Linked DNA regions of Homo sapiens: regions 2, 3, 4, 5, 6 and 7 are each reported to be linked to region 1. Evidence: microRNA targets listed by miRTarBase, many of them from high-throughput screens and not tested one by one. Region 1 holds a microRNA gene; each other region holds the end of a gene's coding sequence. Distances are from middle to middle.

What was found. Region 1 holds the annotated microRNA hsa-miR-211-5p (UUCCCUUUGUCAUCCUUCGCCU, at 1,989-2,010, shown strand). A microRNA usually pairs through its seed, bases 2 to 8, with sites in the 3' UTR of a target mRNA and lowers its output. Matches are read on the target gene's strand: a 7mer-m8 pairs with bases 2 to 8, a 7mer-A1 pairs with bases 2 to 7 and ends in A, and an 8mer does both.
Region 2: miRTarBase lists FAM167B as a target of hsa-miR-211-5p. Seed matches in the 3' UTR shown: 7mer-m8 at 523-529.
Region 3: miRTarBase lists CDC42EP4 as a target of hsa-miR-211-5p. The part of its 3' UTR that is shown has no 7-base or 8-base seed match.
Region 4: the mRNA of ARHGAP6 is a reported target of hsa-miR-211-5p. Seed matches in the 3' UTR shown: 7mer-A1 at 1,927-1,933.
Region 5: the mRNA of UGT2B28 is a reported target of hsa-miR-211-5p. The part of its 3' UTR that is shown has no 7-base or 8-base seed match.
Region 6: miRTarBase lists STC2 as a target of hsa-miR-211-5p. Seed matches in the 3' UTR shown: 7mer-m8 at 976-982.
Region 7: miRTarBase lists TLNRD1 as a target of hsa-miR-211-5p. Seed matches in the 3' UTR shown: 7mer-m8 at 1,234-1,240.

The regions. Positions count from the first base shown.
Region 1 is chr15:31,063,105-31,067,104 of GRCh38, reverse strand. MIR211 (microRNA 211) reads left to right here and starts at 1,964; the gene lies at 1,964-2,073. It overlaps TRPM1 (transient receptor potential cation channel subfamily M member 1), which reads left to right. Exons shown (of 28, transcript NM_001252024.2): 6 at 1-42; 7 at 858-1,029; 8 at 3,813-3,987.
Region 2 is chr1:32,248,150-32,252,226 of GRCh38, forward strand. FAM167B (family with sequence similarity 167 member B) reads left to right here. Exons shown (of 2, transcript NM_032648.3): 2 at 222-707. The coding sequence ends at 452. It overlaps LCK (LCK proto-oncogene, Src family tyrosine kinase), which reads left to right and starts at 3,116. Exons shown (of 13, transcript NM_005356.5): 1 at 3,116-3,222. RefSeq lists enhancers at 331-490, 1,719-1,928, 2,119-2,328, 2,379-2,468.
Region 3 is chr17:73,281,781-73,285,857 of GRCh38, forward strand. It overlaps CDC42EP4 (CDC42 effector protein 4), which reads right to left. Exons shown (of 2, transcript NM_012121.5): 2 at 1,844-4,077. The coding sequence ends at 3,650. Among named protein-coding and RNA genes, the nearest start is that of CPSF4L, 22 kb to the left of the region's middle. RefSeq lists enhancers at 1-114, 2,967-3,523.
Region 4 is chrX:11,135,533-11,139,609 of GRCh38, reverse strand. ARHGAP6 (Rho GTPase activating protein 6) reads left to right here. Exons shown (of 13, transcript NM_013427.3): 13 at 80-2,066. The coding sequence ends at 747. Among named protein-coding and RNA genes, the nearest start is that of HCCS, 26 kb to the right of the region's middle.
Region 5 is chr4:69,294,598-69,298,674 of GRCh38, forward strand. UGT2B28 (UDP glucuronosyltransferase family 2 member B28) reads left to right here. Exons shown (of 6, transcript NM_053039.2): 6 at 1-453. The coding sequence ends at 212. Among named protein-coding and RNA genes, the nearest start is that of UGT2B28, 16 kb to the left of the region's middle.
Region 6 is chr5:173,313,980-173,318,056 of GRCh38, forward strand. It overlaps STC2 (stanniocalcin 2), which reads right to left. Exons shown (of 4, transcript NM_003714.3): 4 at 744-4,077. The coding sequence ends at 3,868. Among named protein-coding and RNA genes, the nearest start is that of MIR12118, 12 kb to the left of the region's middle. RefSeq lists an enhancer at 2,878-4,077.
Region 7 is chr15:81,002,490-81,006,566 of GRCh38, reverse strand. It overlaps TLNRD1 (talin rod domain containing 1), which reads right to left. Exons shown (of 1, transcript NM_022566.3): 1 at 779-4,077. The coding sequence ends at 3,207. Among named protein-coding and RNA genes, the nearest start is that of TLNRD1, 3.6 kb to the right of the region's middle. RefSeq lists an enhancer at 2,969-3,853.

The DNA of each region.
Region 1 (4,000 bases):
TGGGGCATCGTGGAGAATAAGGAAGACCTGGTTGGAAAGGATGTAAGTGTTTTCTCTGCAAATGTTGGCAGTTTTTTAAAATTAATGATTGATTTTGAGGTAACCGTTGATTCAGATGCAGTTGTAAGAATAATAAGAGAGCTCCCTTGCAGCCTTTCCCATTCCTCCAATGGTAACATCTTGCAAAACCATAATGCAAGATCACAACCCGGATACTGTCATTGATAAGGTCAAGGTGCAGAATGTTTCCATCAACACGAGGATCCCTCCTGTTGCCCTTTCATATACATATACCTCACTCCTTCCTACCCCCACCTCTTCCTTAACCCCTGGAAACAACTAATCTGCACCACCCCGCATTTCAAGAAGGTTCTGTAAATGGAATCATACAGTAATGTAACCTTTGGGGATTGGCTTTTTTTTCACTCCACATAGTTCTCTGAACACGCGTCCAGGTTGCCATATGTATTGGTCTTCATTCCTTTTTACTGCTGGCTGACATCCCATGATATGGAGGCACCAGTTTCTTTAACCATTTGTCTGTTGAGGAACAGTTTGGCTGTTACAAGTAAAGTAGCCATAAACATTCCAGTGCAGGATTTGAGGTTAACATAGGTTTTCATTTCTCTGTGATAAATGCCAGGGGTGCAATTGCTAGGTTGTCATTATCTAAAACAATTAACTTTCTTTCTATTTTAATGTAACAATTGGCAAAAATAAAACCTTCAAAAGGCAGGGTAGAGATGTGAGAATAAGTTTTAGTGCAGTCACTCCACACATATGTATTGTGCTTGCTTCCCTTGTTGGTCTTAACATCCAAGTCCTGCAGGTCTGATTTGCGCTGTGCACTTTGTCAGGTAACAAGAGTGTACCAGACCATGTCCAACCCTCTAAGTAAGCTCTCTGTGCTCAACAACTCCCACACCCACTTCATCCTGGCTGACAATGGCACCCTGGGCAAGTATGGCGCCGAGGTGAAGCTGCGAAGGCTGCTGGAAAAGCACATCTCCCTGCAGAAGATCAACACAAGTAAGTGCTGGCAAAGGCACGCAGTCCTCCTGGGCTGATGCCATCACAGTGGAAACAAGGCTGAGAAGGAGATTGATTGCCCAAGGGGATTAGAAGATTAACCTTGCTTCTTGTTAGGTCAACAGAAAATGACTCACCTAGATGTCTTACCTTAGCCACCTACCAAATCACATTCACTGGGCTACATGGGGATGCTTTGCCCCAGGTTCACAAGTTAGCACGAAATAACCCTCAGTGCTCGCCATGGTGATGGCCTTGCCCACCCTGTTGCCCAGTGGTTCTTGTTCCCTGTAATTAGTTGTTATTTTTTAAGTGTTTTAACAGGAAAACAATTTCTCAAAGATTTAGTAGGATTCTTTCTATTTGCTGATAAGTATTATGTGATTATTAAATATCTCTGTAATGCTGGGCCTTTCATGTAGACTAAGATGGCCAGGTGGGGACATATCTGGAGAGGGCTGCAGGAGCCATCTGCTCCTGAAGGGGCATCATCCTTGCTGGTCCTGAGGGGGAGCTGTCACTGTCAGACGAAAGCTGAGGTCGAACTAGAGAGAAAGACGCAAACCTCAACCAGAAGAAACAATGATAACAACTGGTTAGAATTACAATAACTGGTATAATCTCTTGGAGCATGTTTATACTCCAGTAATTCTTAACGTCAAACAATTGTTAAATGATCTGAAAGAGCAGTTTGTTTTTCCCATTACTGGCAAGATTTTTGTGGGAGACCATCTAGTCCTGGCGAATGGTCATTGGGAATCATCATGTATGGGACTGTGATGCTGCAGAGTGGGTAGAATGGGGATGGCCTACTAGGAAAAGTTGTAGATTTCCGAGAATCAGATCTCGAAGAATACATTGGTCGATGACTGAATGTTTTTTGTTCTCACATCTCTAATTTTTCTGGACTTGTAAGTTTTTACAACACCCCATTTCACCTGGCCATGTGACTTGTGGGCTTCCCTTTGTCATCCTTCGCCTAGGGCTCTGAGCAGGGCAGGGACAGCAAAGGGGTGCTCAGTTGTCACTTCCCACAGCACGGAGCTTCGAGGACTCCAGCCTAAGCCAAGAAGAACCTGTTCTACTCTGTTGCTCGAAAAGAAGGTGATTTGGCCACCATATTCCTAAAGATTGAAAATATCAATCCTTGCTTGGGTTGGAAATCTCAAAGGCGGAGTCCAGGATATCTTAGTTCATTTTTCCAATATCTCCTGGTCAGGGCTTTGCACAAAGCAGACCCTCAATGCATGTCTGCTGAAATGAACTTAGCTGTAATTACTCTGGTGGACACAGCAGAGTTATTCAACATATGTAAGAGTCCCTGACTGTAGAAACACCTCATGGAAGCAAATTAGAAACTCTGAAATGGCTCATTTGAAATTCTCCAATCTTCTCTTAACCAATGCTGGCAGATTTTTATCTGAAGCCCTTCAGAGCTGAGACCAACGATACTTCCACTTGCCTTTAGTTAATATCGATCAACTAATTCCCATCACAACTAATGGACAGCTGGTGAAATAGGCTCAGAGTGTGATCTGTCATGGCCAGTGTGGCATAAAATTAGGAAGTAGGCAAATGTGCCTCCACTCCCATTTCCTTCCCATTCCAGAATCCCAACTTCCTGGAATCTTCCTGCCACCTCTTGCTTCCCAGAGCCATGCCTGCAGGTTCTGCCACCAAAAGTTAGTTGGTACCCACTGTGTTCTTGAAGAGTCCTATTAACTGATAGAGACAGAGGGAGGACTCTGGGAACAGGTCATTAACTGATGGGCCACTAGTGGTCCAAGTGGCTGCGTCCAAGATCTGCACTTTATTCCAGCCACTGAAGACAGAAACGTCAACAAGAACAGTGTACCTCATTTGTATGCTACTTAACGTTTACAAAATTATTTGCTAGCCAAACACATATTCTGATATTTTTACAACTGCAGGAGTTAAAGGAAGCACTGTGATTGTTCACCTTTTACAAATGGCTGTCTAAGGCTCTTGGTGATTTGGTGATTGGCCCAGTGTCATAAGGGAGAAGCCAGGAATTGAACTGCAATTTCCCTGGCTGGTCCAGATCCCCTTTCATCATCTTATTCTTCAGGGACAGCCATCAGGGTGGGAATTTCAGACCATAGGCTAGGACAGCCAGGGGGATATTTTTCCAGCCAGGAATACCTTCCAATATTTCTCAGTGGTCACCTTGAAGTAGCCCCAACATCAGGTGGGTGGGTTATTCAGGAGTTTAACCATATGTGAGTCAGAAAGTTTCAGACTTTGAGGTCCTGGTTTTCCCAATGAGGCCATAATATGTGACAGAATGCAAGAATGATAACTGGGCTGGGCACAGTGGCTTACACCTGTAATCCTAGCACTTTGGGAGGCCAAGGCAGGTGGATCACTTGAGCCCAGGTGTTTGAGACCAGCCTGGGCAACATGGCAAGACTTCATCTCTACCAAAAATTAGCCAGGTGTGGTGGCATGTGCCCATAGTCCCAGCTACTCAGGAGGCTGAGGTGGGAGGATTGCCTGAGCTGAGAGGGAGGTTGAGGCTGCAGTGAGCCATGATCATGCCACTGCACTCCAGCTTGGGGGACAGAGTGTGATTCTGTCTCAAAAAAGAAAAAAGAAAAGAAAAGAAAAAGAAAATTGTTATCACATGCCTGAATTCCTTCCAGCCAGATAGAACATCCCCCAAGTCGTAATGTTTTTACTCTTCCCCATACTTCAGGAGTTAAAACGACTGGGTGGACAGTGCAGGGCACAGGTGGTATGGGCGAATGTGGTTTGTGTTGCAGGACTGGGGCAGGGCGTGCCCCTCGTGGGTCTCGTGGTGGAGGGGGGCCCTAACGTGGTGTCCATCGTCTTGGAATACCTGCAAGAAGAGCCTCCCATCCCTGTGGTGATTTGTGATGGCAGCGGACGTGCCTCGGACATCCTGTCCTTTGCGCACAAGTACTGTGAAGAAGGCGGGTAGGATTTCTGA
Region 2 (4,077 bases), not on the chromosome of region 1:
GGGATGGGGCCCAGGCAGTTGGATTTGCTTAATAATGACTCCTTAGCTGGGTTTGAGAACCACCAGGTGAAGCCAGATTGGGAGATAGGGAGAGATCAAGCTGAGGTGAGAGGGGGCTGGGGAGGACACAGTCAGTGCAAAGGCCCAGCGTTGCCAGGAAGGGAGAAACGGCGCGCGGCCGAGGGCCTGTCCAGTAGGCTCACGCCCCCTCTCGGCCGCAGCGGGAGATGCAGGCGCAGGACAGGCAGCTGGCAGGGCAGCTGCTGCGGCTGCGGGCCCAGCTGCACCGACTGAAGATGGACCAAGCCTGTCACCTGCACCAGGAGCTGCTGGATGAGGCCGAGCTGGAGCTGGAGCTGGAGCCCGGGGCCGGCCTAGCCCTGGCCCCGCTGCTGCGGCACCTGGGCCTCACGCGCATGAACATCAGCGCCCGGCGCTTCACCCTCTGCTGAGGAACACCTGTGCCCCCCGACTCCCCGCCCCCTCTCCCAATGCCGCTTCCCCTGCCTGCCTGGGAAGAGGAAAGGGAGGGGTGCCCCAGAGGCACCAGCTCCTGGCGGGGGAGGAGGAACATTCAGGTTTCTGAGAGCTGAATTCCAAGAGTGCAAAACCCCAGCATCCTGTTTCCTCTGCTGACCCAGCTGGGAGGGGGAGGAGGAGGAGCTCACACCCTCAAACTCCTCAATAAACGCTTTCTCTGGTTCCCATCAAGGTCTCTTGCAGTCGTTTATTCAGGCCCAAGGCCGCTATCTGAATGTCGCCTGTCACTGGGACCACCCTAGTTCACTGCAGGCCCATGGGAGGTGACTTAGGTAAATTGGGCTCCTGAAGAATGCAGAATCTGAGAGACATGGGTTCAAAGCCAGCTACCCCGTTTATTTCTTTTTGTTGTTGTTATTTCTTCTGCTTCTTTTTTTTTTTTTTTTTTTGAGGCAGAGTCTCACTCTGTCACCCAGGCTGGAATGCAGTAGCACAATCTCAGCTCACTGCAACCTCCGCCTCCGGGGATCAAGCGATTCTCCTGCCTCAGCCTCCCAAGTAGCTGGGATTACAGGCGGCCACCACCTCGCCTGGCTAATTTCCTTTCTTTTCTTTTCTTTTTTTTTCTTTTTTTTGAGATGGAATTTCACTCTTTCGCCCAGGCTGGAGTAGTGGCGCGATCTTGGCTCACTGCAACCTCCACCTTCTGATTTCAAGCGATTCTCCTGCCTCAGCCTCCCAAGTAGCTGGGATTACAGGTGGCCACCACCTCGCCTAGCTAATTTCCTTTCTTTTCTTTTCTTTTTTTTTTCTTTTTTTTGAGATGGAATTTCACTCTTTCGCCCAGGCTGGAGTAGTGGCGCGATCTTGGCTCACTGCAACCTCCACCTTCCGATTTCAAGCGATTCTCCTGCCTCAGCCTCCCGAGTAGCTGGGATTATAGGCACCCGCCACCATGCCCGGCTAATTTTTGTATTTTTAATAGAGACAGGGTTTCAGCATGTTGGCCAGGCTGGTCTCAAACTCCTGACCTCAAGTGATCCACCTGCCTGGGGTTTCCAAAGTGCTAGGATTACAGGCCTGAGCCACCGTTTATTTCTATTCGACCCTGAGGAGCTCCCTTAACCCCTGAGTCTGTTTCCTCACCTCCACAATGGAGATGCTGATTCTCACTCCACAGGCAGCAGATGTGCCTTACGGGAGATAGTGCACAGTGAGCGCTCAGTGAATATGAACTATTACTCACTCCCAGCGCGGCAGTCTTTCTACTCTGTGCTGAGACAGGGAGATGGACCGTGAAGTGTTCAGGCTTACATTGCAAGGGAGTCTGGGCCCTGCACCAGGCTTGGAGCTCCAACTCTAGGCTCTGTGTCACTGTGAAGGTTTTTCACTTTGTCTCTCTCAGCCTTTGTTTCTGTGTTACCCTCTTTGTCTGACTTTCCAACTCAGGCTTCCTCTTCCCCCCACCTATTTCCTGCCCCCACTTCTCTCTGCAGCTGAGGTGCACACAGCATCGCTTCCACCTCACAAGCCCCAACAATGCTCTGTGGGTTCCCCTCCCCCTACCAGCTCACTCAGGCAGTGACGCATGTGCACTTTCCTCCTGGTGGGGTCAAGGCCGAGTTCTTGGACCTGATGAGGCCACCTGGAGTTCCTCATATCACTGGTGACCTGGCCCTCAGCTAATGATGGGTGCCCCCTCAGCCTGGCCCCAGGGGAAATGGAAATTCTTTGCCTGCCTGCTGCTCGTGACAATCTTCTTGCCTCCTGCTTATAACAGAAAGTCCTGACAGTCTGTGGCCTGCACCTGGGGGCCTGAGCGGCCCTGTTTGCTCTGTCTTCCACCTGTTGCAGGAGATAGTGCCAAGCCCTCCACCTCTGCCAGGGGCTGTGGCCTTGCCTCTACCTGAATTCGAACTGTTGCCCTACTCTCCAACCATGATTAATGGGTGTTGTCCTGGCCTCTGACTACAGCAGGGGCCGTTACTATGCCCTCTTGAAGACATGAGGTTGTCCTGTCTGCCTCCTGAAACAGGCTGTTTTCCAGCATTCTGTCTGTAAGAGGGATGGTAGCCTGCCATTCACCTACCCTTGACTATAATAAAGCTACTGTTCCATGCCCTGAGATGACATGGGAATTGTTCTCTCGGCCTGACCTGACTGTAACATGCATGGTCTGCTCACCAGCTATTTAACAGGGATATTGTCCTCTCCTCTGACTCTGAACGATGCTACCTTTGCTGCCAGACAGAAACAAAAGGGTCTCTCAGCTGCAACGGTGGTGCTGAGGTGCTGTTTGCCTCTCACCATAAGCTGAGTGTGTGTCCGCTTGCCCCCTGCTCACTGGGCCCAAAGGCTGCCCTTGAATCTCTTGCCCAGATGCACCCTGGAGGGCAGAAGGGAGGGTCTATCAGACATCCTCCCCTCAACTTTAAACCTCCCAGTGTCACCCTGGGACAGTAGGGGAAGATGGACCTGGTCTGGAGATGTAGGGGACCCCCAGGGGCTGAGAGGCAGGGGTCTATGGTGGCAGGAAGCTTGGCGTGCTAGAGGGTTGTGGTTGGGCTGCTGGGGCCCGGTTGGCTGCGGAGCCCTCCGGAGGAGGCAGGAAGTCAGGGTGGGACGTGGGCGCGGGGAGACAGGTGGTGGCTACGACGGCGAAGGGAGCTGAGACTGTCCAGGCAGCCAGGTTAGGCCAGGAGGACCATGTGAATGGGGCCAGAGGGCTCCCGGGCTGGGCAGGTAAGGAGCGCTGGTATTGGGGGCGCAGGCGCCGGGGTGAGAGGCCTGATAGCAGACGGCTGCAGCTGTGCGGGCCCAGGCTCCCTAGGGATGCAGCAGCCCTTTGTGGCTGGGGAGAGAAGATCCTCGCTCAAGGTCAGGTGGGAGGCAGGCAGTGTAGCTGGGTCGCCTCTTTCCTGCGAAGCTGGTGTCGCTTGCCTCTGTCGTGCTGTCCACCAGTGGCCCCACCTGACTGGGAGCGTGTTTCCTGGACACCAGGCACATGGACAGTCAGGTGTTAAAAAGGCTTCCAGAAACCACCAAGCCCAGTCCCTCAGGCCATGAGGATGAGGCTCCTGAGGCCCAGAGAGAACAAGGCACTCACTGCCCACGGTTTCTCAGCAAGGCAGTGGCAGGGCTGAGAGTGATGGCTGAGGCTGTGGCCACCCCGCCTGGAGCAGGGTGATGGACAGGCTGGACTCAGAGGACCCAGGAATCCTTCTGGTTTCTGGGGCAGACCCCAGTGACAAGAATCTCCTGAGAAAGAGAGAGAGAGAGAGAGAGAGAGAGAGAGAGAGAGAGAGAGACAGAGATCACCCAAGGCATCCAGATGGACATGCGAGGAGTGATTTTAGCCTCAGCGATCGAGGGAAGAATCTCCTGATGGGCGTGAACTGATATGTGTGGGGGTGTCCATCATCTGGGATGGAGCTCCAGGGTGGATGGACATATCTGATCTGAGTATGGGAAGTTGGAAGTGAAAGAGAATGATGGGAGAAAGGAAGAGGAAGTACTATTTTTATCCCAGACAGGGGTGCAGTTGGTCCTGGGTGAGGAAGCGCTGAACTTCCATCTGGAAAGTCACCATTCCTGCCC
Region 3 (4,077 bases), not on the chromosome of region 1:
AATCTTAACAGAGCTCTGTGGCCTGGCTGGTTCTGCGTGTTCATCTCATCCTTGTCTCCTGGGTCCACTGAACCCCCAGCCAGAAGGTATGCTCCTTAAAGCTGTGAATCAAGCCAGGTCCCCGGGTCTTCTTGAATGCTCAGAGCTTTTCCATCAATGGTCAAGAAACAGATTCTGGGGCTCGGGGCGGCTGGTTTCTCTGGGCCCCTAGGGAGTCCCTGGTTAGTCGGTGTAGGTACAGTCATTTCTCTCTCTTGGGAGGTTGCACTGTGTCTGGGAGGCACAGCCCCTTCTCATCTGCCTGGTCCTCGCCTGAACAGTACCTTCCTCTCCCCAGTCATCCCTGAGCTAGACTGTAGCCCCTAGGGACCCGTCTCCCAATGGGCCCCAGCTCTCCTCCCTCTCTCTTCTTCCCTTGGGGCAGCCAGAAGTCCCCGCTCATAACTCCCACACGAATGAGCCTGTCTAGGGACAGAGGGAGGGACCTGAGTGACATTTTAATTATGCCTCTAATTGCTTTCCAGGGAGATGAGTGGGGAACTCACATTTCTCTGTGGGTGCTCAGGGGAGAGTGCAGGGTTTCCACCAGGAACTCAGCCACATTGAGATCCCCAAGATTTCCCCAGATTTCCTGAGAGCAAGCGGGGGCTTCAACAAGCAGTGAGCCAGCCCTACGCAGACCAGGGCTCCCTTCTGAAGCTGTCCAGAAAGAGGGGAACATGATTCAAGGGAAGGAGGTGGTAGGGCAGGGGCAGGGCAGTGGGTTCAGGGGCCACTAGACCCTCACCCCCTGACTTTATATCCCGAGGTTTTGATGTGCCCAGGAGTGGTGGGGTGAGAAGGGCAGGAGTTTTGAATGAATTCTGGGCATTAGAGAAGGCGGCCTCGAGGCTTATCTGATCATCTTTCTCCATCTGGAAAATGGGGATGTGGAGCTTCTATCTCCCTGAGAAGTGAGGTTGAACTGAGGACCTGCCACTTGTAAGCTGATTTTCCAGGCTTAACGGTAAAAGGGGAAAGAGGAGGTGGTAGCCCCGCTCCCAGCATCATGCAGAAACTGCCTTCAGGGCCAGCCACTTTCTGGTGGTGACAGTTCCGTGCACCAGGACACCAGGGGGCTGGGGAGAACACAGTCACTCTCATCCTAATCACAACTGTATAAAAAGCCCATGTCGACCGGCACGGTGGCTCACACCTGTAATCCCAGCATTTTGGGAAGCCAAGGTGGGCGGATCACTTGAGGTCAGGAGTTGGAGACCAACCTGGCCAACATGGTGAAACCCAGTATCTACTAAAAATACAAAAATTAGCTGGGTGTAGTGGCGCACGCCTGTAATCCTAGCTAGTTGGGAGGCTGAGGCAGGAGAATCGCTTGCACCTAGGAAGCGGAGGTTGCAGTGAGCTGAGATCACACCCCTGCACTCCAACCTGGGCGACAGAGTGAGACTCCATCTCAAAAAAAACAAAACAACAACAACAAAAAAAAAAAACAAAAAAAAACAAAAAACCAACCCCCTCCCCCACAAAAAGCCCATGTCACTGTTTCTGTGCCTCAACCCTCTAAGAGTGGCAGGATACCCATTTTACAGAGCAGGAGAGGGAGGCACAGAACAGCTAAGCGACCAAGTGCCAAGGGCTTCCAAGAGATGGCAGTTAGGGACACCTGAGTCCCCAGACTCTGAAGGGGCCTGCCCAGGCAGACAGCATCGCAGGAAGGGCGGGTCCTCACGGACAGAGAGACAGAAGCCACCTCAGGCCCCCCTGGACAGCTCTAGGACCTGGGTCCAGACCCCACCCCCATCCTGAAATAGCCCTCCCAAAAAGCAGAGACAGACACCAGGCGTGCTTTAGGGCTTTTTTTTTAATGTTTCCTCACTGTTTTGACAATATCATGAAAAAAATCAGTTTAGAATCTGGAATTGGCCTGGACGGGATTCGAGGGCAGCTGGCGGGGGCTGCATAGCCCCTGAGGTTCCTCCCCCACCATGGGACCTAAGCTATTGGAAACAGGAGCACCAACAGGGCACCGAACCTGGAACTAAGTTAGTGTCTAGAGTCAGGCAAGAGAGGAGAGTCAGGCAAGAGAGGAGGGGCCGGGCCACAGTCGCCATGGGGACGCCCCTGGCTGTGGTTGGTTCTGTGTCTCCCCCTCCCCTCACTGGCTACATGGAGACAGGGAGGTGGGTCAGGCTGTTCCCAGGACAGAAAAATAACCGGCAGTCAACCTCAGGGCTCATACCCGAGCTTCTGCTCAATCCCCTCGGGGACAGTTACAGGACTCAGAGAGAAACGTGAATTTCAGAAAAACAAATCATTTTTCACATAAGTGTTCCAAATATTGCGTGGGGCATATTAATGCTAGAAAATTATCTTTTGTTTACCTGAAATTTGCGTTTAACTCAGCACTCTGTTTTGGTTTTGCTAAATCTGGCCAACCCTGGCCTCAAAAGTCGGTGGGGGGAGGCCTGAGAAAAGAAAGGGAAGTAGTCAGTACTGAGGGTATTGAGGGGAGGGAGGGAATAACTCAGCCAAAAAGAAAAAAAAGGCTTTCCCCCCATAGGAATGATATATTATTTAAAAAAAAAATCGTTCTCCAAAAATATTCTGCACTGGCCTTCCTCAGTTGTTAATAGCTATGGGAGGTGCGTAGGGAAAACACACACACCAGACACCCACCCCATGTCATTCTAAATAAAGTTGGGAAGCACTAAAGTTGAGCTGGTGTCTTTGCCACGGATGTCCCCAGACTCCAGTCCGCTAATCGCCACCAGACTCCAGTCCGCTAATCGCCACTGTGAATTTTGAAGAGGAGGCTTAGTATAAAGGTTTTCTAAAAGGATTGATTCTCATTCTGAGGCAGACCTATTAACACCATCCTGATATTGCTCTATAAGGATTTAAACACAATAATAAAGAACAAACAAGCCCCTAGGGACTGAGCGAGTGCCCTAGCCCTGTTCCTAGTGTCATCCTGGAAGGGTCCCTTCTTGCAATTCACGAAGCCTGGGGGGCTTTCCTTCCATTCTCCATCCTGTTCTCTTCCCCTGGAAAGGGCTGCGTTTAGTGCACATGCTCGCAGCTGGCCCCCCGTCCAGCTCAGCTCCAAGGGGCTCCAGATTTCCAGGGCAGGAGCTGGGGTGGGGCAGGGAGGGGCTGAGAGGCAAGACCGTCTCCCTCCTGCTGCAGCTGCTTCCCCAGCAGCCACTGCTGGGCACAGCAGAAACGCCAGCAGAGAAAATGGGAGCCGAGAGTCCTTAGCCCTGGAGCTGAGGCTGCCTCTGGGCTGACCCGCTGGCTGTACGTGGCCAGAACTGGGGTTGGCATCTGGCATCCATTTGAGGCCAGGGTGGAGGAAAGGGAGGCCAACAGAGGAAAACCTATTCCTGCTGTGACAACACAGCCCTTGTCCCACGCAGCCTAAGTGCAGGGAGCATGATGAAGTCAGGCAGCCAGTCGGCACCCATGCCAGCCCCCTACGTCCTCCGAAGACCCGAGGGCCAGGCCAGTGTCCCTCATCTACAAGGTCCAGGGTCCATGGTCTGAATCAAGGGTCCTGGCTGCCCCTGCGCCGTAGGGTCAAAGGTCATAGTGGGGTGGGGGCAGGGAGAAGATGCAGCCAAGAGCTCCCGGTGGCCACCCACTGTCCGCCTCACACACGGATTTCATCCTCCTCCTCCTCATCCATGAAGGAGAACTCCTTGTCTGGCTGTCTTGAGACAGCAGCCCGGGCCCTGTCCGGCCCCCGGAAGGCAGGGCTGCGCTCCTCCAGGATGCCTGAGGTGCAGCTGGAGAGGGAGCTGCTGTCCCGTGTGGTGTGGCTGCCCATGCTGCGGGCTGAGCCGGGGCTGGGGGCCGCTGCTGCCCACCCCTCATCCTCCAGAGCATGGGAGGGGAGGGAGGGCAAGTCTGGGCCAGCCTTGCCTTCCTGCCTTGCCAGGGGAGGGGCCGCCACGGCGTACGGGGGAGCCTGGGTGATGGTGCCAGCGGCGCCCTCATCGCCATGGTAACCACCCTCCCCCTCCTCGGGGTCCCACTCCTCCTTGTCCATGATGCTGAGGACGTCACCCAGCATGGAGG
Region 4 (4,077 bases), not on the chromosome of region 1:
AGGAAATAACAGGATTTGAATCCCCAGCAAGGATTCTACAAACTGATTCCATTTCTTGGGCTTTCTCTCTGGCTTCCAGGTTCCTCTGGAGACATTTTTGAAAGCAGCTCCCTAAGAGCGGGGCCCTGCTCCCTTTCTCAAGGGAACCTGTCCCCAAATTGGCCTCGGTGGCAGGGGAGCCCCGCAGAGCTGGACAGCGACACGCAGGGGGCTCGGAGGACTCAGGCCGCAGCCCCCGCGACGGAGGGCAGGGCCCACCCTGCGGTGTCGCGCGCCTGCAGCACGCCCCACGTCCAGGTGGCAGGGAAAGCCGAGCGGCCCACGGCCAGGTCGGAGCAGTACTTGACCCTGAGCGGCGCCCACGACCTCAGCGAGAGTGAGCTGGATGTGGCCGGGCTGCAGAGCCGGGCCACACCTCAGTGCCAAAGACCCCATGGGAGTGGGAGGGATGACAAGCGGCCCCCGCCTCCATACCCGGGCCCAGGGAAGCCCGCGGCAGCGGCAGCCTGGATCCAGGGGCCCCCGGAAGGCGTGGAGACACCCACGGACCAGGGAGGCCAAGCAGCCGAGCGAGAGCAGCAGGTCACGCAGAAAAAACTGAGCAGCGCCAACTCCCTGCCAGCGGGCGAGCAGGACAGTCCGCGCCTGGGGGACGCTGGCTGGCTCGACTGGCAGAGAGAGCGCTGGCAGATCTGGGAGCTCCTGTCGACCGACAACCCCGATGCCCTGCCCGAGACGCTGGTCTGAGCCCGCACCCAGCCGAGCCCCCCCTGCCCCGAGCCCCCCGCCCTCCAGCCCAGGGGGGACCGTGGGTGGTGGCCACTGGCACACTTAGTGTTCTTCTTTCACACTTCTCAAAAGTGACACAAGAGAAATCCAGTTCACCTACAGAGGTAGAGCACTCACGCCCCCGCCATTGAGAATAAGGTTCCATTGCGTAGCCAGCCTTAGGAAAAACAAACAGAACCCAAACCAGATGGCAATGTCCAATCTAAAAACGTCCCTCTTGGCTCTATAATATAAGATACAACTCTTGCTTGGTATAGCCTAACCGTATTTATGTGTCTTCGGTTTTGACTATTGTGTATTCTGTAACAGATTATGTATAATCATATATGATATATTCACAAAGAGAAAACAAAAGGAACTTTTAAAAAAAAAATCACTTCACTTATATTAAGCAATGAGATATACTAAACAATGAGATTCTATAGAATGTTCTAGAATGTGCACAAGCGGGTTTCTGTGCTTTTGCCATAGCTTTATAACTGGGGATAACCCTTCCTTCGATACCAAACACTAACAAGAGGAAGCAGAATATGAGAAGCCATATTTTTACATAGGAGTCAGATACAAAAAGAAAAATCACTGAATGCTTTTAGATATTGAATACGTTTTCAGGAAAATGCTAAATCTGATAGATTACGAAATATATTTTTAGAACTTGTTTAGAAAGGATTCAGTTAACCAAACAAGAAAAAGGCAGTGCCTCACAAAGAAATTAAGAAGTTGTCCGTCCCACGTTACATCAAATTCAGTTTTATATAGGCCATATATAATATATATTTATAATGTATAATTTTTATGTATTTTTCAAAACTACAAACTGGAATCCAACTATAAAGTGTTTAAGAATCTACACAGAATATTCAAATTATAGAACATGTTTTTTCCCTTTGCCCCATAATCAGTATTTGCCAAATTACATGCAATTCCTTAAAAACTAAATCACATTTGGTAAAAGGCCTACAGCTTTGTACTTACATTGTGCCAAAGGCTGAGGAAATGTTTTCTTTCGTAATTTTATGTGTATTGTAAAATGTTCTACCGTACTTTAGTAGTTTGAAGTTTTTCAAGTGCATAACTATTTTTGACCAGCAGATGGCGATACGCTTCAGTATTTTATGCAATTTTTTTTCACTTCTGAAGGGAAAGTGTATTATAAAAAAAGATTTTTTTTTTTTTTATAAAACATGCTACTCTTAATTTTCATGTTGGTGATGAAATTCCCAGTGGTGTTTCTTAAGGTTCTATCTTGTGCCATGATGAATAAAAAGTTAAGCAAAGGCTTTGTTTCCTGGCTTTAAATCTCTTGAATGAATTTGCATCACATTTCAGACATATTCTTCACTATCCACAGATCCAAGTGTAATAAATCATGGCAATTCTATGCATATACATATATAGCAAAAAAGCTGGTTTAAAAATATCAGATGGCTTTGGGACATCAACTCAGTGACACCAAAGCATTTAGAAATGTATAATAATTTGTTGCAAGTAAAGGCTGATTTCCTCGACTGTTGAAGAGGTGGTTTTCTACAGGACTGAAACTCAGGTTTCCTGAGTTTCCTGAACTGTGTTGGGCAGCTGTTGCCCAACGCAATTCCTGTTAAGCTACACCTGCTCTGTGGGCCTTAGATGCCTAATTTGCTTCAGGGCCGAAATAATAAAAGCTAGAAGTGGCATGTGGTATTTCTTATTTGGGAATGGTTTGAGATAGCTTCAGGCTCTGCCATCCGGTCCAGCACTTCCACCACTGGCTGGGACTCAGGGAGGATTTGCCTGCAGACCTCTGGTTCTTCCTGACTGCCCACACTCAGCCAAAAGTTGTCAACAAGATCCAGAGGAAATGCTGCTTGGTTGTGGATCGCAGGTGGCTTTTCTGTGCCACCTACTCTCATCCTACTCCTGCTGATGCTACTTCCCTGGCTTTGAATTTGACCATGATCTGATCAGTTCTTTCCCTCCTTCCTAGATTGGATGGCCTGATAAATGCGACTCTCTTTCTACCATGTTCTTGCTAGAGTAGTCCTATTTTTAAAAAAACATCCAGATCAAATGGCCCTGAAGTTGATGCCTGTGTCAGAAAAGGTCACGAAAAGTATGTCCATCTGTTAATAGATCTAAAATAAGCAGTCCAGAAAACAGGACTCACAATATCTTTTACATATATCTCAATATTCACTCTCCCTCTCTTTGTACATTTAAGCTTAGGGGCCATGTCTTTAGCTTAGTGAGTTACAGCTTGTTTCTTTTTCTCTTTTGAGATGGAGTCTTGCTCTCTCACCCAGGCTGGAGTGTAGTGCTATGATCTGTGCTCACTGCAACTTCTGCCTCCTGGGCTTAAGCGATTCTCCTGCCTCAGCCTCCTGAGTAGCTGGGATTACAGGCGCACAACACCATGCCCGGCTAATTTTTGTATTTTAGTAGAGATAGGGTTTCCCCATGTTGGCTGGGCTGGTCTCGAACTCCTGACCTGAGGTGATCCACCCGCCTCGGCCTCCCAAAGTGTTGGGATTACAGGTGTGAGCCACCGTGCCGGGCCTTGTTTCTTAAATGCCTTTATCATATTGAAAATAAGCAGTTTAAAAAAAATCGTACATGAAACCCAAAGACCTGAGGGAAATTATCCTTTCTAATACCTTATAAATGATATAATACCTGACAAGAAAAAAATAAAAAACTCTTTCAAGCTGGCCAAAATGCCTTTAAAAGGCTGTTCAAGTCACTCATTCCCCATGAACAGACAGCTTCAACAAGCATGAAAAAAGCTTCAGTGTGTCACATATGTTTCTCCATCTATGAATACTCTGACATTGACATTGAAACAATATGAGCCATTGTTTTTGTGTCTCTGGCAAAGGGGCCAGAATGGGGATGGCAGAAATGGCCAAATACGAATTTGTCTTGATCCATCTAAGTAGCTATTACCATATGTTTGTTGTGGGTTTTTATAGAAAAAAAAACCCTCTTATACCAATGGAATTTGTGCAAATTGAGGAAATTTCTAAATAAACCCAGCTTGCTTCTTTTCTTATGCACATTTTAATACACATCTGCTTGGCAGAGAAACAGCATTGGGATTAAATATAAAGGGACGTCAGAACAAAGTCCAGGCCTGTGGGGTATGTTGGTCTGATAAGCAAACTGGGGGAGGTAGATTATACTGAACTGAGAAGAAAGGAAATGACTGAAGAAGAGTTACACAGAGGTTAAAACAGGACATCTCAACTGAGAATTTTAAAACAGAACTAAATCAGTAGCAAATGTTCTTCAAGAGAAAAAAAAAAAAAAACA
Region 5 (4,077 bases), not on the chromosome of region 1:
CAGTCTTCTGGATTGAATTTGTGATGTGCCACAAAGGAGCCAAACACCTTCGAGTTGCAGCCCGTGACCTCACCTGGTTCCAGTACCACTCTTTGGATGTGATTGGGTTTCTGCTGGCCTGTGTGGCAACTGTGATATTTGTCGTCACAAAGTTTTGTCTGTTTTGTTTCTGGAAGTTTGCTAGAAAAGGGAAGAAGGGAAAAAGAGATTAGTTATGTCTGACATTTGAAGCTGGAAAACCAGATAGATGGGTTGACATCAGTTTATTCCAGCAAGAAAGAAAAGATTGTTATGCAAGATTTCTTTCTTCCTGTGACAAAAAAAAAAACTTTTCAAAATCTACCTTGTCAAGTAAAAATTTGTTTTTCAGAGATTTACCACCCAGGTAATGGTTAGAAATATTCTGTGGCAATGAAGAAAACACTAGGGAAAATAAAAAATAATATAAAGCCATATGAGCTCATATTGAAATTTGTTGCACTTATATTGAGATTTGTTGTTTGAATTCACAAGTTACATAAAAATATTACTCAGTTTAACTACATTTCACACATTTTATATAAACACAAGAACATTAAGAAGTCTACTGACAGTATCAGTAGTGTTTTGCACATACTCAGAATAATTTGGCTTCATTTTGAACAGGATTCGGTTGTTTTAACTGTTGCTAAAGAAACTATTACATAGTTAAATTGTATAAAAAGTCTCTCTCTTCCTTTTGATATCTTGAGATAAGTAGTATTGCTTTACTTTTACACTGCATGCAGCTTCATTGTCACATTTTTTGCTAAAATTGATGGCCAAATGTTTACTGTTTTAAGAGCATAAGTCATTTCTCAGTGGAAATTATGTGAAATTAGAAATATAGCCACTGTTACCTGCTTCCTACTGTAAAATTGAACTGTTTTGCCACATCTTTGGTTTCATGAGCAAATTCTATTTTTTCCAGATATTTAAAGATATTTTTCTCGTTGATTTTATTCTGATATTTTTAATTACTTCAATAGTTATTTGGGAACAGGTGGTGTTTGATTAGATGCATACGTTTTTTAGTGGTAATTTCTGAGGTTACGTGGCACATATCATGTGAGAAGTGTACCTTGCACTGAATGTATACTCTTTATCCCTCACCCCCTCCCACACTCCCATCTGAATCCTTAGAGCCCATTACATCATCTTTATGCTTTTGCATCCTTATAGCTTAGATCCCACTTAGAAGTGACAATTGACGATGTTCAGTTTTCTATTCCTGAATTTCTTCACTTAGAATAATGCTCTCCCACTTCATGCAAGTTGCTGTTAATGCCATTAGTTTGTTTCTTTTTACAGCTTAGTAGTATTCCATGGTATATATATATATATATATATATATATATATATATAGTGTATATGCGTGTGTATACGTGTGTGTGTGTGTGTGTTTGTGTGTGTTTGTATCAGGGGAACCCACCTTCAATATTTCAATGTAGGTTCTTCCCATTTTCCATAAGTGTTGGCCAGCTGAGAAATAAAGAGAAAGAGTACAAAAAGAGGAATTTTACAGCTGGGCTGCCGGGGGTGACATCACATATTGGTAGGACCATGATGCCCACCTGAGCCTCAAACCAGCAGGTTTTCTATTAAGGGTTTCAAAAGGTGGGGTGGGGAGTTGTGTAGGAACAGGGAGTAGGTACAACGATCACATGCTTCAAAGGACAAAAGGCAGAACAAAGATCACATGCTTCTGAGGGAACAGGACAAAGGGCAAAGCAGAACTACTGATAAGGGTCTATGTTCAGTGGTGCATGTATTGTGTTGATAAATATCTTAAACAACAGAAAACAGGGTTCGAGAGCAGAGAACTGGTCTGACCACAAATTTACCAGGGTGGAGATTTTCCCCACCCTAATAAGCCTGAGGGTATTGCAGGAGACCAGGACATACCTCAGTCCTTATCTCAACCACGTAAGACAGACATTCTCAGAGTGGCTGTTTATAGACCTCCCCCCAGGAATGCATTCCTTTCCCAGATTACTAATATTAATATTCCTTGCTAGGCTAAGAATTTAGCGATATCTTCCCTACTTGCACGTCCATTTATAGGCTCTCTGAAAGAAGAAAAAATGGCTCTTTTTGCCCCACCTCACAGGCAGTCAGACCTTATGGTTGTCTTCCCTTGTCCCCTAAATGTTGTTGTTATTCTGTTCTTTTTCAAGGTGCACTGATTTCTTATTGTTCAAACACACATGTTTTACAAGCACTTTGTACAGTTAACACAATTATCACAGTGGCCCTGAGGTGATGTACATCCTCAGGTTATGAAGATAACAGCATTAAGATATTAAAGTAAGACAGGCATAAGAAATTCTAAAGGTATTATTTGGGAACTGATAAATGTCCATATTAAAGTGAAATCTTCACAATTTATGTTCCTCTGCCTCAGCTCCACCCAGTCCCTCCATTCGGGATCCCTGACTTCCTGCAACATCTGTGTGTGTGTGTTTGTATGTATACCACATTTTCTTTATCCACTTATTGGTTGGTTGATGGGCATTTAGGCTTGTTCCATTCTTTTTCTTTTTTAATTGCGAATAGTACTGTTGCAAACATGTATGTGTGTGGGTCTTTTTCATATAAAAATTTTCTTTCCTCCGGGAAGATACACAGTAGTGCGATAGGTGGATCAAACTGTACTTCTACTGTAATTTCTTATAGAAATCTTCATATGGTTTTCCATATTACTTGTACTAGTTTACATTCCCATAGCAGCATAAAACTGTCCCCTTTTTACCACATCTATGCCAACATTTTATTATTTTTGGATTTTTAAATTATATTCATTCTTTCAGGAGTATAGTGGTATTGCATTGTGGTTTTGATTTGCATTTTCCTGATAATTAGTGAAGTTGAGCATTTTTTCATATATGTTGGCCATTTATATATCTTCTTTTAAGAATTGTCTATTTATTACATTAGGCTACTTTTTGGTGGGTTTTTGCTTTTTTTTAGCCATTTGAAGATTCTGGACATTAGTCCTTTGTCAGATAAATAGTTCATGAATATTTTCCACTATTCTGTGAGTTGTCTGTTTACACAGATGATTATTTCTTTTGCTGGCGGAAGTTTTTAGTTTGATTAAATCACAACTCTTTATCTTTGCTTTAGTTGCATTTGCTTTTGGATATTTGGTCATGAGGTTTTTGCCTAACCTAATGTCTAGAAGAGTTTTTCCAATGTTACTTTCTAGAATTTGTTATTGTTTCAGGTCTTAGATTTCATTATTTGATCCATCTTGAGTTGACTTTTTATAAGGGAGAGACAAAGATGCAGTTTCATTCTTCTACATGGGGATTGCCAATTATTCCAGCCCCATTTGTTGAATAGGGTGTCATTTCCCCACTTTATGTTTCTGTTTGCTTTGTCAAAGTTCAGTGGGCTGTAAGTACTTGTCTTTATTTCTGGAATTTCTCTTCTGTTCCATTGATCGATATGCCTGTTTTTATACTGATACCATGTTGTTTTGGTAACTTGTAATATGCCTTGTAATACTTTGGGTAATGTGATGCCTGTAGGTTTGTTCTTTTTCTTAGTCTTTCTTTGGCTATGCAGGTTTCAAAACTGAGAATCAAATAAAAAACTCATCCATTTTGAAAATAGTTGCAAAAGAAAAAGAAAAACAAAACAAATTACTAAGGAATCTACCTAACCAAGAAGGTGAAAGAACTCTACAAAGAAAACTACTAAACACTGCTGAAAAATGTCGTAGATGACACAAACAAATGGAAATATATCCCATGCTCATGGATGGGTAGAATCAATTTTGTGAAAATGAACACATTGCCAAAAGAAATCTATAAATCCATTTCAATTCTCATCAAAACACCATCATCATGCTTAAGAGAACTAGAAAAAAAATCCTAAATTTGATATGAGTTTTATTATCATATTTGACTTGTAGTAAGAAATGTAAATCCTTTATTTTAGGTTGTGATAATATAGAAATTACACTCTAAAGGGACTTAGTGAATTTTCAATCTTGCTAAATATACAGGTACATATATATGTCCATTTCTTTTAAAACAAGACACAGCATCAATT
Region 6 (4,077 bases), not on the chromosome of region 1:
TTAACTTAAAAATAAATTTAAAGTGGAGATTCTAGGCCTGAAGTAGGGGAAGGTGTGTGGGCTTAGGAGTCCTGATCTGAGTTTGAGTTCAGACCCCACCCCACTCACTAGCCACACAGTTTGGGACAAGTCTGTACCTCAGTTTCTTCACCTGTAGAATGAGGATAATACCTATTATTTGTGGGATGTAATGAGGATGAAATAATGCATGCAAAATGCCTACTGTGGTGCCTGGAACATAGTAGGTACACCAACAGTGGCACAGATCACGTAAACCAGGGGCTCCAGCTCTGTTCTGCTGTCGTGAGCAAGAGCTGGGGAGGAGGCAGTGGGCTTCCCTCTATATGCCAGGCCACTCAGCTGTTAAGCTGGTGGTGTCTGCTGCAGGCTCAGTCTGAGAGAAGGGGTGGCCAAGCCACAGGGGAGACTCACAGGGGAGACTCAAAGGTGAGACCAGAGTGAGCCTTAAGGACCTGCCTAATGGGGTGTGGGGGTGGCACTTCCAGGCCAACTGCATGAAATTTATTCTCCTCCTTGTCTGGGTGACTCAGGCAGGGGCTTGGACAGGGTCCCTCTGACGGAGAAGCCTAGGGTAGTCCTCTTCATCTAACTTCCTTCCCTGTAGGCTGAACATCCACAGAAGCATAGGATTCTCTTGACGTAAAAGCCCACTTGCTCACAGCTGTCCCCCTGTGCACCGGACATCAATGACCCTCTCAGACAATGACGCTACTCAAGTGGAAGCCATTTATTTAAAACTTTTATTAACGCTTGAAGAAAAATAATGCAATGTGACAATGTACAGGTCCTGTTGCCTAAATCCGTAGTAGAAACAGATATTATCACTTAGCAAGCTCACGTGGTGCCAATTCTGAGATCAGACGGGGTTGTTCCTCCTTAGGAAGTGGCCACTGGAAGCATTGTTTTTCCATGCTATTTCCGTGAAGCCTTTTGCTTGGTTCGAGTTTAAATTTCTCCCTTTGTGTGAGTATGACTATAGTTCTGGCCTGGTGTTTTCTATTTATTTAGTTTTAGATGTCAGCATTTTACTATACTTGGTCCTCTCACTTCAGAATAACAGGGCTATTTATTGATACAAAGGAGAGGTGTTCAGATCATCTTGTTAAGATGCAGAGCTCAAAATAAACACTAAATCTTTATTTGGAGATCCACATCCTTCCTCAAAGGAAGGCTCATGAGTAAATTTGTATGCAGTATAAAGCCCAAGTAGAGGGTGTATTTTTAATGACTACTTTGCTTACATTTTAGATTGTGCAAATGTCTCAATCAATGCTTGCAGGAATGTGGACCTTCCTCAGTTTTAAGCAGAAGACCCTGAGCAATAAATACTGTTGCATGCTTCCAATAACGTGAGGGATGGGATAGAAATGCTATCTACCCGACTTCTGAGGAGAAAACAAAGCAGTGGCATGAAAAATATACAACAGAGATCAGTAAATGGGTTCAAATGAACACAGTAAACCATTTTATGCCTTAGGGGGAAAACACAGAGATAATAAATACAAATGACAAATATTTACAATAGAAGCAACGAATGGGATCAGTAGGCGAACACATAAAACATTTACACGGAGGAAAATGGAAATGTGATGCCTTTCACACATCCAGTCCAGGAGCTGGCGGACAAATGAACAGCTGACTCAGCAACGCAGGAGAATGTTATTGCTTTAGCTTTTGAGTGATGTCAGTAAAACAGTCAACGTGCCTGCCGCGGTGGCTCACTGCAGGAGACAGCCACGGTTTACACTCGTTCCCATGGCAGAGCCTGACACACAGGTCCTCCTCCCCCCAAGGGCAGAGCTGGATTAAGTGCACCAGCTCTTCTGTTCTCTGCAGCCCCAGATCTTGCTGGGTGCCCAGGGAGCCCGGTGGCGGGGGCTGGAGGTGGGGTTTCCTCCCTTCCCCCAACCAATGATTCCCCTCCCCACCCAACCGCCGGCATGGATCATGAAAGACTGGGATTGGATTTGGGGCATAGAAATACTAGCTGTGTTTTGGTTGAAGGCATTCCCCAGGAACAAGTCATTTTAGAGCAGATACGCTTGGTTTCTTGGTGTCTGGCCTCAGGTTGCCTTGAGGAAGAGCTGATGAGTTGACGGATAAGGATGCATATGCTTTTTGACCCACTCACTAGAACAGAGATCAGTAAACTGTGTCCTGTGAGTGAAATTCAGCTGGGAGCCTGTTAAATAAATCTTCCTGGAAGGGAGCCAAGCCCTCTCGTTTGTGTGTTGTCTATGGCTGCTTTTGTGCTAGGACGGCAGAGTTGAGTAGTTTCGACAGAGACCTCACGGCTCGCCAAACTGAAAGTACTGGATTCAGTATCTGGCCCTTTGCAGACAATGTTTGCTGACCCCCTACTCCAGAAGAGCCCAGCCCAGAATACCCGGCCACTCCCTACAATACCAGCTCCTGCTTGAGAAAGGATAGGCTTTAATTTGATGGCCAATTAGGAAGAAAAGGCCTATTTAGGTGATGTTTTAAATAACCCAAGAAACCCACTGCTGAGACTTTTAATGAAAATCCTCACTCTCCTTTCCTCGTATTTTTAGTTCTGTCTCTTCTCTCTGCCTTTATTTGTCCCCTTGGACTCCTCTCCTTATTGCTAAATTTCCAATTAGGATCTGGAAAATCCTGTCCCTTAGAGATTTTCAGCAGTCTCCTTGATTTTATGTAAAAGGTCAGCATTTCCTGATGGGAATTACTAAGTAGTCTTCATTCTCTTCTTTCCTTTCCCATCCCCTCACATGGAGAAGCCAGGTTTCCAGCTGGGTCTCCTGGAATCGCCAGGACGCAGCTTTACCAATCTTGGCTGAGGGTCAAGGTGAGATAACGAAATCCTAAGGGAAATTTGTCAAATGTACTCCCCAGGTGTGTATTTTCCTCTGGGTATAAGGTTTCCCCCAAGTGGGCAGGAGTCCATGTCAGGCAGTCAGATGTATGGCTATGTCGCTGTTTGATAGCTTTTAAAATAGAACTTAAAAAAAAGAAAAATCAGCCTCAAAGGATGGGCTGGTTTTTTTTTTTTAAACCCCCTTTGAGCTGGTTTTAATGACCCAGTTGCTTTGTTTGAAAGCCATTTATTTAGATGACAGATATGTAGATATAACTGGATAAATAAAAAAAGTGAAATCGAGATTTGAAGCAGTGGTTAAAATATAAACTCATAGGGGCCACTCCCTTGGACAGTGTCCCCCCCAGCCCAGACAGTACAATGGCTCAGAAATTACACATAGAAATGACACTCCTCCCTCCACCCTCGCCAAGAGCTCTGAACCGCAAGGCCCCACACAAGAAACTGAATTTCAGTTTGGCACCAAGCACCCCCTCGGCCCCTGCCTCCTCTCCACCCTTCTCCTGCATTCTAAGCGATATTTATTTTTACATTCACTCCTGTCCTGGAATCCAGCCGCCCTGACTTCCGCGGAGACAGCACCAGAGGCTGCTGCACCAGAAGCTTCGGGGCGAGGCCCAGCACCCACTGTGTGGCCCAGCTCTGGGGGCCCTGCCTTGCCCTGCCCCTCCCTGGTTCACCTCCCCCACAACAGAGCGGCCGACACCCACTGACTCCACAGATGGAAAGAAGACAAAGGTACGAGGATAACGCGGGCGCGCTCCCTTGAGTACGTGTAAGTGCAGAATTCACCAGGCACCCCTGAGACCCCACGGCCCCAGGGGTCTCCATCTCACCTGTCCGTTCCGCGAACACACACCTCGATGAAGTCCACAGTCCCCACAGAATCCTGCGTGTGACATCCCCCCTCTCTAATGGTAAATGTTTTGGAATGTCCATAGATAAGAAAATGGACGGCGTGGAGGAAAGATTTCGTGGCCAGGCCTTTCATTTCACCTCCGGATATCAGAATACTCAGACTGTTCGTCTTCCCACTCGCTGCTTCCGGAAGGTCCCTGAGCCCCAAGGCCCCCGACTCTGCCTCGGGCATGGGCGTTTGGGTGGCTCTTGCTACCTCGCTCACCCTTGGCACCTCGGCCAGTCTCCCTACTGCTGGGCTCTGGGAGGTGATGTCCTGCTTCCCCGTGGTGGGCCCTGGAGAG
Region 7 (4,077 bases), 50 Mb from region 1:
ATCCCACCCTGGGCGACAGAGTGAGACTCCCTCTCAAAAAAAAAAAAAAGTGTGTGTAAAATAACCAATCAGATGAGGATGGTGGGGGTGCGGAAGAAAGCAAATACACACACATAATTTTTGTGTTTCCTAACATCACCCATAAATGCTATGCTTAAAACAGGCAAAGAAAGATGGAGTTGTGCTTTTTTCTGGTTAAGTCTTATGTTTGAAAGACTGTTTTTGTTCCATTTACTGAGTTGACTATCATAAATAATGTCTTTTGTTCAAAGAACTTAGCAATCATGATTTCCTTTTCTCATGACCATTCAAAGGAAGAAGGTTCTCAACATTCCCTGGTCAAGATGATGCACATTAAGCCTGTGTAAGAAAACTTGCCCTCAGGAGTCAGAAGAACCCAAGGATTAATGTCTTAAATTAACCCTAGTTTAAAAATTAAAAAGCAAACAAAAAAAACAGGCCACTCTGATTTTATTCCTGGAACCAGTATCTCTGCTGACCTTATTAAACCCTATTATGAAATAGGTCTGAGACGCTGCTTTTTTTAAACATCAGGGGCTATTTAAAAAACAAGTTTAGCAACCTGGGACATTAGAGAAAAGTTAAAATGTCAAAGACCTGTGCCCAATCCCCTTGCCTAGCATTCCTCACTCTGGCTTCTTGAAATCTGCTAGAAAAAAAGTACAAGCAGAATTCACTTCAAGACACCTGCTGGAAGAAAAGCCCTGAACTTTATGTTATAAATGGGAGGTGGGGGGTGCAGGAGCAGTGAAAACGCTTAAGTTTAGAACTTTAATCAACTTCAGAGAACAGAGATTATGCATGTTACATGACCAAACGTAGAGCATAAAGAAACACCAAGAGCAGCTATCATTTAGGTAAGAGGTTTCAAAATTCACTTAGTGACTAGCTAGTTAACTTCATCCAAACAGATAGGGAAAGTGATTTTCTTTTTTTTAATTGGCTTGAGTTGTCCTGAAAATCGCTTCTGCAAGGAAAGAGTCCAGGAAAAAACTGGCAATTCTTTTTTTCTTAATCTAATACCAAATTTACAGATTTCTGGCCCTTATTTTACTTAGCGTTTGTTCCTTTCAGTTTACTCTTTGTGATCTGCATAGGATAAATGAAAATGAACCATATAATCAAACTCCATCATTACTTGTGTACATTCAATAAATAAAAATTTCTATATGCATGCAGGATTGTCACTGGCACATGAATTAGAATCCCACCTCCCTTTCATCCTGAACCCCATCCCAACATTAAGGGGCAGAGGAAAGGAATAAAGATGCTCAAGGTCATTTTCATCTTTTAAAGTCTTCAAAAACCCGAAGTTTACCAGGATTTAACAGAGAAAAACTGCTCCCATGGTCATTTTTTTAAAAATTTAAGTACCCTACCACTTTAAGACTTTTTCAAATTTCAAATTCAGGGTGGTGAAACAGTCCTACCCTTACCCAACACAGGTTAAAGACTTTTACACGTTGTATTTCATGTCATTGTAATAAAAACAGCGATTCAAACAAGTAAAATAGTCAATATGACTTTTTTCTCTCTCTCTTAATGTATTACAGTGAAAAATGCTTTCTTTTCAGATCTGTGGGAACTGCAAAGGTTTAAGCACAACAAATCCCAAGAAAAATGTAAATGGAACAAATCTAAACCACGTACGAGTTTTTACTCATGTGGCTCTCCCAGGCTTCAGGCACTGTAAATAGATTTGTTGTGCTTTTAGTGGGAAGATATTCAGAATTTAACTAGGTTCAACAAAACTATACACTCCACCACCACTCACACAAAAAGACTCCTAAAAATGTCTGCAGAAAAGACAAACTACCTTAATATTACTCCAAATTCCAATCAAAGATTCTTCCAACATACAATCAACCATGGCATTATCTTAGATCAAGGTCACAAAAACAAGCCCTTGGCCTACAATCATGTTGTGGCTCTAGAACGTTCTTAACAAGCTTTCCAGGATACTTCTTTCCTCTATTAAGCAGTCTAGGACCCTCTCTATATTTTTTCTGAAATCATGAGGATCTTGTCTGAATAGACCTGTGTACATAAAAGATGCTAACTATTCTCACTTGATGTACAGTACTTTTAGAGTTCCATCCAGAGACTCTGAGTTGGGAAGGCTGGCATACCACACAGGATTAGGATTTAATCTGAAAATGATAGGCAGAATACAAATCAGAATTCAAGCAGCCTGAGCCACTGTTCATGATGATGGAAAGGTAAGTGGAGACAAAGGGAGCTAAATCACTTTCCAGGAAAAATGAGACAAAACCGTCCCAAGCACTCTACATAACCCAATCCCATTTGTGTCACCTGCCTTTTAAAATAGAACGTTACACATAGTCCTCTCTTCAGTTCCAGGCTGCTCAAGGGAGTACTTCTTGAGCAGTACTTTTTCTTGAGGAAATAGTAGAAAGGGCTGGGAATTGGGGGCCCGCCTCACTACTATTGAAATAGCCTTCCCACAGACCCTTCCCATACATGACATGCAGCATGCAAAATTACAATTATTGAAAAATCAACAATAATTGCAAAAAGCCATCTGAGAAACATAACATTTTAATAGATGAAATAAATACTCCAGTACATGCAAGGTAAAAACTTGACGTTGGGGGAAAAAAAAATCACTCTATAGTGTAAATTAAAAAAACACACGCTCACAGTAGCTTCCCCCCATTTGCAAATCACATGGCAAATTCATACTCTTTCCACACCAAGTATACTCCTAATTCAACACGATTGCTTAAAAAAAAAAAAGACATACAAAAAAAGGTAGCTACATCCATGTCTAAGGAGTGAAAACTGAGGTAACCTTTCTTTTAATTAAAAACACAAAAAACAAAAATGAAATGAACCCATGACCTCCTTCCTGCCCAATAATGAAATTTAGTTGAGAAATTCCGGAAGACGGGCTGGGGTAGGGGGTGGGAGTGATAACACAACCAGCAGATGACATATCTTCCAGTCCCTACTGCATGGGGGCTGGTGGAGAGACACCTGGGCCCTCCAAGTGCGTGTGCAGGTTGCGTGCATGGCCCTGCCTTGTGGAAGATTCCTCTCGAGCATTTAACGTTGGGGAGGGTAGGGGGTTTCACCTATGATTTCTTTGGTATAAATGGAGAGGGGCAGAGAGTAAGTATCTTCCTTTAGTCTGGGGGTGGAAGAAGGGGTATGGGGGTGGGGTGCTAATTCACAGAATTGGAATTCACTGGCGGTAAAGTCCTGGGCGAAGACCTCTCCCTTAAAGCCTGAGATAGCAGGGTGCAGCCTTCAGACACGGCGCAGGCCGAGTTCCTCAGCCTCTCCCTGTGGTCCGACATCTTGGCGCCCCCGTCGGGGTGCTGCGCCAGATCCCTGAGGCACTGGGTCAGGAGCACGCAGGCCGACACCACGCTCATGGCGCCGCCCAGGATGGCGGTCTGCACCGCCTTGCCCTCGGCGCTCACAGCTGCCGCGCGACCCAGGAACTGCGGCTCGGTGGCGAAGCCTACCAGGGCGCTCACTGCCTGCACCAGGGGCCCGCTGAAGAGCGCACAGCGGCTGCGCGCCAGCTCACTGGGCGCCACCTTCACCTCGCGCACGCAGGCCAGCAGCGCCGACGCGCTGGTGCTCATGCACTTGACGCCCAGCTTGAACTGCTCCCGCGAAAAGCGGTCCCGTGACTTGTCACTGGCCAGGGCGCACGCGTCCGTCAGGAACTTGAGGTTGCGCGACAGGCCCTGCGACACCTCCAGCAGCAGCTGCGGCGTCATGTCGGCCAGCGGCGTGGCGCGCAGCACGGCGCAACCCTGCTCCACCTCGTGGCGGCATCGCGTCACGCGGTAGCGGTCCACCAGGCCCGGCTGCGCGGGCTGGGCGCCCGGCGTGGCCACAGCGGCCAGATAGGCCGCGTGGGCCGAGCACTCGGTCAGCGACACCACCAGGTCGCCCAGCTCCACCAGGCTGTCCCCCGCCTCCCCGAAGCGGCCCATGTTGAGCTGGCTCTGCACGTCGTGGGTGAGGATGGAGAGCCCCTTGGTGCGCGCGATGATGGTGTCCCGGCACTGCTCGAAGGAC